Homo sapiens: one gene and its partner. The protein of the gene in region 2 interacts with the protein of the main gene of each other region in a pairwise test. Each region holds a gene or a part of one and is shown on either strand. Other genes may lie near its edges.

Evidence for each region.
Region 1: the proteins of DHRS13 (region 2) and KIFBP interact in binary tests that used the Homo sapiens proteins (3 or more experiments, as listed by UniProt).

Annotation. Positions count from the first base shown.
Region 1 is NC_000010.11:69,005,803-69,009,402, reverse strand, and holds part of KIFBP (KIF-binding protein), read right to left. Parts: coding exon 3,488-3,600; intron 2,506-3,487; exon of another isoform or gene 1,652-2,505; intron 563-1,651; coding exon 478-562; intron 1-477. UniProt on the Homo sapiens protein: Activator of KIF1B plus-end-directed microtubule motor activity. Required for organization of axonal microtubules, and axonal outgrowth and maintenance during peripheral and central nervous system development.
Region 2 is NC_000017.11:28,900,720-28,904,847, reverse strand, and holds the start of DHRS13 (dehydrogenase/reductase SDR family member 13 precursor), read left to right. Parts: upstream 1-1,768; 5' UTR 1,769-1,903; coding exon 1,904-2,030; intron 2,031-2,146; coding exon 2,147-2,265; intron 2,266-3,231; coding exon 3,232-3,355; intron 3,356-3,546; coding exon 3,547-3,858; intron 3,859-4,128. UniProt on the Homo sapiens protein: Putative oxidoreductase.

The DNA of each region.
Region 1 (3,600 bases), on a different chromosome or scaffold from region 2:
GAAATAGAAATATGCAGTGTAGATAAAAGAATTGTATCAATGTTACTTTTTTTTTTTTAATTTCTTTAAAAACATAGAGATGGGGTCTCACTATGTTGATCAGGCTTGTCTTGAACTCCTGGCCCCTCCCATCTTGGCCTCCCAAAATCTAGCATTACAGGCGTGGGCCACCATGCCTGGCCAATGTTACATTTCTTGAATTTGATAAATGATCTATGATTATGTAAGAAAATATTCTTCTTAGGAAATATATACTAAAGTATGAAAGGGTAAAAGAGCCTAATGTATGTAACCTTCTCTCCAATGGTTCAGAGAGAAAAATAAAATTTGATTCCAAGCGAGGAAAATACTAAAAATTGGTGCATTTAGAAGGGCATATGATAGCTCTTCTGTTCTTGCAACTTTTCAAAAGTTTAAAATAATTTCAAAATAAAACTTTTTTTAAAAGCTATGTAAAACATGCAAAGGTAAACTTACTGTCTTCTGTGGCTGAGATCTTTCCAGTTTGACCAAAAATGACATTAGCAGCTGATAAACAGTGCCTGGCCTCCATAAAGCATAGCTATTGGGGAAATAAACAACAGTGAATGCAACTATCACACAGCTTTATTTGCAACTGATACTTGCATAATTTCTTTTAATATGGGAAAAGGTATAAAATCAGATAAAAATACTACAAAGGAGGCCCTGTAGAGTTGCAGATCATTCAGAAGGTACAAAAGATATATTATCATATTATCTGGTTAAAATGTAACCTCAAAGGTTAAAATATTAATGCCCCCAAACTCTTAATAATAATCCACTCGGATTGAAAGACAACTGCCAACTGAAAGTTAGCTCTCCTTATACAATCAATAGATATACAGGAATGGCTGTCATCCTAGACTTAAACTGTCTCAAAAACTCCTTTAGGTTCAGTCTAAGTAGCCAAAATCCCATGCACAATAAATTCTTAGACTATTTACATTGTGTCAGAAGACTGAATATATATATATATATATATATATATATTTTTTTTTTTTTTTACGAGACAGGGGTCTCACTCTGGCCCAAGGCTGGAGTGCAGTGGCACAATCATAGTTCACTGCAGCCTCAACCTCCTGGTCTTAAGGGATCCTCCCACCTTTAGCCTCCAAGCCTGACTAATTCTGGGGTTTCTCTATGTTGCCTAAACAGGTCTCCAACTCCTGGCCTGAAGCAATGCTCCCACCTTGGCCTCCCAGGGTGCTGGGGTTATAGATGTAAGCCACCTTGCCCAGCCTGAGGATTTAATTTTTATTAGGTTTAGAGAGCCCCTTTACATCCTACTATACAAAGGCAAATAGGATAAACTCAGGTAAGAAGATATTCCTGTGTTCTAAAATCTTTAAACTTTACATACAATAAGGCTTCCCACCAAGTTTTAAAGTCAACAGACTTCTACAGATGAACCTTATGGAACTGCTTTACCAACACTCTTGAAGACTTCATAATTCAATTCCGGGCATGGCAAACTTCTCAAACAATTAGAGAAGATCTCCTTGTTAATAGAAACATTTTGTATTTGTCATGTAAGTCAAAGGACCACCCAGCAGAAGTTCAAAGTTAAAGTCCAACTTTTAGTTGGAAGCCACCCTCATTAAATAGAATGTCTACTTAATATTAGTAATACCTGAAAGGCTTTAAATGGTTGGCTATAACTTTAAAATTGCAGCATTAAATGTATCTTTCCATTATGGCAAATTCAGAAGCCATCTTGAGAATAGCTGGACACGTGTAGTATTAGCCCAGCAACATCTATAGATAAAAATGTGTTAAATCTTAAAAGCCAAAAGAAAGTTAGAGTTTATATAATGAAACTTTAATTATCTCTCTATAATCCAATCCCTTAACATTTATCGTCATTTCAGCTTTGTCCAGATTGGCTCCCTGTGAGCAACCACTGCTAGAACAGTGAGTGTCTTATGCCCTCTAGGTGGCTGGTAAATGTGGGACTTTAGCAGCTGCCAGGTAGGGATTCACCAAGTAGCAAAACCTCATCACTGGAATCAGATGAAGATGACAATGATATAAATGACAATTGCATTTTTAAAAACATGGTTCAAATCCCTCTTTTTGCAATACGACTTAGTTGGTTTTAACAAAAACTTAAAAAAGATTTTGGTAAAAAAATAAAAGTGCAGGGTGTGGGAGGTCTCATGAAAATTACTGCATGCTCCACATAAGTAATGCTTAACAACTTTAAATTTTAATCACACTTTAATATCTAGATATCTTAGTACTGCCAATTTCCATGGAGTTTTAAGTATAAATTAAAGTCACAGTGAATATGTAATTTTAAAGTTGCTAAACAGAATGAATAAGGGGCCTCCAACAGCTGTAAAAAAGATGTCACAAGCGGAGGCACTGGATAACACTTTGGATGAGGACAATGAAATGGATTCATGAGAATTAGTTAACTGAATGCTCTGATATATGCAGTAGCGTTACTTACACACTTGATCTTAGACCAAAGTCCTAGAAGCGATGCTGCAGTCACCACAGCCCTTTCTCTCCTGCTAATAGCTTTTCTGAATGAAATTCTGTGGGACAATACTTTAATCATCGGGCGCATTTACAGAACCAACGCTAACGAAATGCTCAAAAAGGATAAAGGCCCAAGGATAAGGCAGCGGGTTACCAGAGAGATGAAAGAAGGAACTCTGATAAGCAGAGAACTACCAAAATTTCAGAGAGGCTTGCGAATTCGAAATATAAATAAAAGTAATTTATATTGCTGAGATGTCTTATTAAGGATTAATAGGAAAATCTGGTTAGAAAAGGTGGTGTAAAATTATTTTAGCATTAAAAACTCTCAAGGATTAAAGGAATAAATGGGTCAATTAAGAGTACACCAACATGATGTGAGCAATGCTTTTTTAAATTTTTATGAGAAATTCTGATAAACAACTAAGAAGCTCAAAAACATTGTCCCTGTGTAACAATCCAAAAGAAGTATGGTATAAAGACCTAGAACTTTGGAACTCAGCAGACATATTTCCAACATTAAAAAATTATTACAGAGTTAATTCTGAAAAATAACTGAAATGCATCACATGCTTTTATCAAAGCCCACATTTAACAGTCAACTTCCTCAGTCAAATTCTCAGAGTTATGAGATTACCATTACGTAAAGATAAAGCTATATCTACAAGGTAAAATCTGCAATTTAAGGTAATATCTCACTAAAATGAGTTGAGATAGCGTGCCTATGTTAAAAAAAGAATTGGTCTTAGGTAACATGTAAAACAATGATAAAACTCGGTATTTTAAAACTCAAAATAATTCATACAACAAAAAGCTACAAAATTTTAGTACACGGGCAAACTGGGCTGCATTTTCGGCTTCAGTTGTACATCATAAAATACAAGCTACCTGTTTTTAAAAGATAGTATTTTCAAGGTACTACTGGTTCTATTTTTATACTCACTATTGGTACTCTGTTAGATAACTACTTCAAGAAGCTTACCTTATTGATGTAAAACTGTGACAAGGTAGCAGCATTGATAGCCCACTCTATAGGATGGTAGGCATTGTGCTCAAGCTGGCGTTTTAGTGTACTATGGCAATAGTGAGCAGCCT
Region 2 (4,128 bases):
TCCAGGAAGTTTTCCTGAGGTCAGCCTCCTCAGATGGAGAGCACCTCTGTGTATATTCCAGCACTGTTTGTGTAGGTGCATCTGCTTGTGTGTCAGGATTTTGCCTTAGGGATAGAAAATGAATATTCTACCCCCAGCCTCATCCCACAGCATCTACAATGGAAACCCGAATCCGCAGTGCAGCTAAATAGGAAACTGGCCCTGGAATCTGAGGTCTGTCCCTGACTTTCATCTGCCCATGCAGGCGTCATCACTCTGCTCCCGGTGCCCTAATGGGCTTTTTGAACTCCCTAAGGACAGAAACTTGTATATCTTCCACTCGGAATTTCCAAGTCTAACTACACTGCTGGGCACACCATAAGTGCCAAATACCAGGTTCTAAATTGTACTGAATGTATCAGGCAACGGCCTTCTGCCCTGGAATGGTCTTACCCATTTGTTCCTAGCCAGCCCCACCCTTCCTGCCATCATGGTCACTTGTAATTGAGTGATGGAGCTTCTCTGCCTGTCTCTTATCACCTATGAGAACCATTCCAAAGGCAAATTTCCTCCTGAAAGGCAATAACAGATTTTACTCTCTATCTCTTCCTGCTTCCCTTCAGCCATGGAAGGCACTAGTGGGGTTGAGGTAGGGAGATACAGAGGGGGAATGAAGGAGTGAATTCTGACACCCCTTAACTGCCTGTGCCACCTTTAACAGTGTCCTCTCTAGCCTGTGTGGGGAGAACACGGAAGAATCCTAGAAGCTGGGGGCTGGATGTGAAGATAAGAAAACGAAGGATTTGGCCCAGTGCAGAGGCTCACACCTGTAATCCCAGCACTTTGAGAGGCTGAGGCAGGTGGGTCACTTAAGGTCAGAAGTTTGAGACCAACCTGGCCAACATAGTGAAAACCCTTCTCTACTAAAATACAAAAATTAGCCGGGTGTGGTGTCACACACCTGTGATCCCAGCTACTCTGGATTCTGAGGCAGGAGAATTGCTTGAACCCGGGAAGCGGAGGTTGCAGTGAGCCGGGATCACGCCACTGCACTCCAGCCTGGGCAACGAGAGTGAAACTCCGTCTCAAAAGAAAGAAAGAAAGGAAAGAAGGAAGGAAGGGAGGGAGGGAAGGAAGGAAGGAAGGAAGGGAGGAAGGAAGGAAGGGAAGGAAGGAAGGAAGGAAGGAAGGAAGGAAAGGAAAGGAAGGAAAGGAGAAGGATTTGTGCAGAAGGGAAGGAAGGAGAAGGATTTGTTCTTAGAGGGAAAAGCATCTAGGACTAGACTCAAAGACACACGTGTATTCATGTACACACCTAACTTCAGAAGGGAGGGACTGTGCTACATACACCTCGAGTAAACATATGGAGATATGCAAGCACATGCACTGGCAGAGACTACAGATGCAGGCACATACCTGGAGGGACTCTGCCAGAATGCACACAAACACCTACAAGGTGCTTACAGGAGCTCACACACAGGATCCAGAGGCACGCACACAACCCAAAGGGTGATCCTCAGGGACATGGGCACATACACACCTAGAGATCATTCACATACAAGCGTTGCAGATGCATGCACATACCTAGCGTGCACTCACAGGGTGTACGTGGACACACACACCCAGGAGTTCACACAGGCACACACCTAGGGGGCGCTCCCAGGGCCCAAGCGCACACACTCACCTCAAAGGTGTCCACAGAGGCACACGCCCCCAGGACGCCGACGCACGCCTAGGGGGCGCTCGCAGGGCCGGCGCGCACCCGCACGCGCACACGCCCCTGCCCAGCCTCCTGCCCGCCTCCGCCTTCGGAGGCTGACGCGCCCGGGCGCCGTTCCAGGCCTGTGCAGGGCGGATCGGCAGCCGCCTGGCGGCGATCCAGGGCGGTGCGGGGCCTGGGCGGGAGCCGGGAGGCGCGGCCGGCATGGAGGCGCTGCTGCTGGGCGCGGGGTTGCTGCTGGGCGCTTACGTGCTTGTCTACTACAACCTGGTGAAGGCCCCGCCGTGCGGCGGCATGGGCAACCTGCGGGGCCGCACGGCCGTGGTCACGGGTGAGTGCGGAGGCGGGTGAGTGCGAGCTGGCGGGGCGCGCGGAGAGGAGGCCGGGCCGGCGGTAGCAGCGGCCCGCCGGGCTCAGCTCAGCTCGGCTCCCGCCCGCGGTCCGCAGGCGCCAACAGCGGCATCGGAAAGATGACGGCGCTGGAGCTGGCGCGCCGGGGAGCGCGCGTGGTGCTGGCCTGCCGCAGCCAGGAGCGCGGGGAGGCGGCTGCCTTCGACCTCCGCCAGGTGAGAGGCAGCGGGGGCGCGTGGGACGGTGAGCCGAGAACCCGCCGGGACACAGAGAAGCCAGCAAAGGGGCTGCGGAGGATCCGGGTCCAGGGAGGAGAGCGCGGCGCGGGCGGCTGAGCGCGAAGAGGGAGTGCACGGAGCGCTGGGGTCACCCGAGGAAGGCGCACCAGAGCCGAGTGGGGGAGGGGCTTCCTGAAGGCCGTAATTGCAGTTCTGAGACGTTTAAGCATCAGTAGAAGTTGGGTTAATGATCAGTAGGAAAGGGAACAGCAGAGGGCACAGCATAAGCAAAGGCTCTGAGGCAAAGAGAGCTGGACTGATCTGAAAAACTGAGAAAAAGATTTAATGAGGCTGGAGCACAAAGTATGAGGAAGATGGGCAAATGAGGGGGCTGGAGAACATTCTAGAGCCTATTGAGAAGCTTGGATTTTATAGATTGGGCAGCAGAGACCAGTGGAGACCATGAACAGCCCTCAGTAGGCTCCGGACTGTCAGAATAGCCTTTGGAAGGAACTCCTTTGTGGCTGCGTGGTGCCTGGAGTGGGGGGGCAAGAGCGGGAGAGAGGAGACCAGTGAGAAGTTACAGATTTTAGGGTAAATGGTAATGGGGAAAGGAGGTGATAATAATAATAGCAAGTACCTACCCAGTGCTGCTAGAGTGTATTTTACACGTTAACTCCTTTCATCCTCACAAAAGCTCAGTGAGATTGGGACTGTTGTTATTATTATTCCCTTTACGCAGTGAGAGAACTGAGACCCAGAGAGATTAAGTATCTTGCCCAAGGTCACACTTTAGTAAAAGGCAAAGTCAGGATTTGAATCCACACACTTATCTAGTACACTCTAAGACACAGGGGCAGATTTTAGTAAACAGTAGGAGATGGACTCTCAGAATTTGGTGCCTGGGGAGAGGGAAGAGGAGAGAGATGCCTGGTGACAAGCCCAGCCCTTGCCTCTCCACAGGAGAGTGGGAACAATGAGGTCATCTTCATGGCCTTGGACTTGGCCAGTCTGGCCTCGGTGCGGGCCTTTGCCACTGCCTTTCTGAGCTCTGAGCCACGGTTGGACATCCTCATCCACAATGCCGGTGAGGGGCAGCAGGCCCTGCGTGGGGGTGGGGTGGCGGGTGGCCAGGGGCAACTGCCCCCTCCAGCGGGGGCCCTGCTGGGGCCAGTGGACACATGGGAAGGATGCCCCCTTCTCCCATCTCATAGATAGGGATGCCAAGGCTGCAGAGCTCCTTCTGGAGCAGCCGCTCACATTTAGCCTCTGCCCCAGGTATCAGTTCCTGTGGCCGGACCCGTGAGGCGTTTAACCTGCTGCTTCGGGTGAACCATATCGGTCCCTTTCTGCTGACACATCTGCTGCTGCCTTGCCTGAAGGCATGTGCCCCTAGCCGCGTGGTGGTGGTAGCCTCAGCTGCCCACTGTCGGGGACGTCTTGACTTCAAACGCCTGGACCGCCCAGTGGTGGGCTGGCGGCAGGAGCTGCGGGCATATGCTGACACTAAGCTGGCTAATGTACTGTTTGCCCGGGAGCTCGCCAACCAGCTTGAGGCCACTGGCGTCACCTGCTATGCAGCCCACCCAGGTGAGGTCTGGTTCTTTGGCTTCCGATTCCCCTCTCCTTTCCTTGCCCCATCCTGTGCCCCCCACACCACTACCGCCTCCCCACCCTCCATCCCTCATTGAGTCACAGAATCTCAGGGCAGCAAGGAAGCATAGTCCAAGGAGAGACCTGTTCCTTGCTGCTCTTGGAACCAGGTTCTCCTGGTTTAGGTTCTTCCTCTCACACCACAAGCCTGGGTCCTCAGCCCTGGGGGGTATATGGCCATGAATAAGACCTGGATTCCCACCCCCA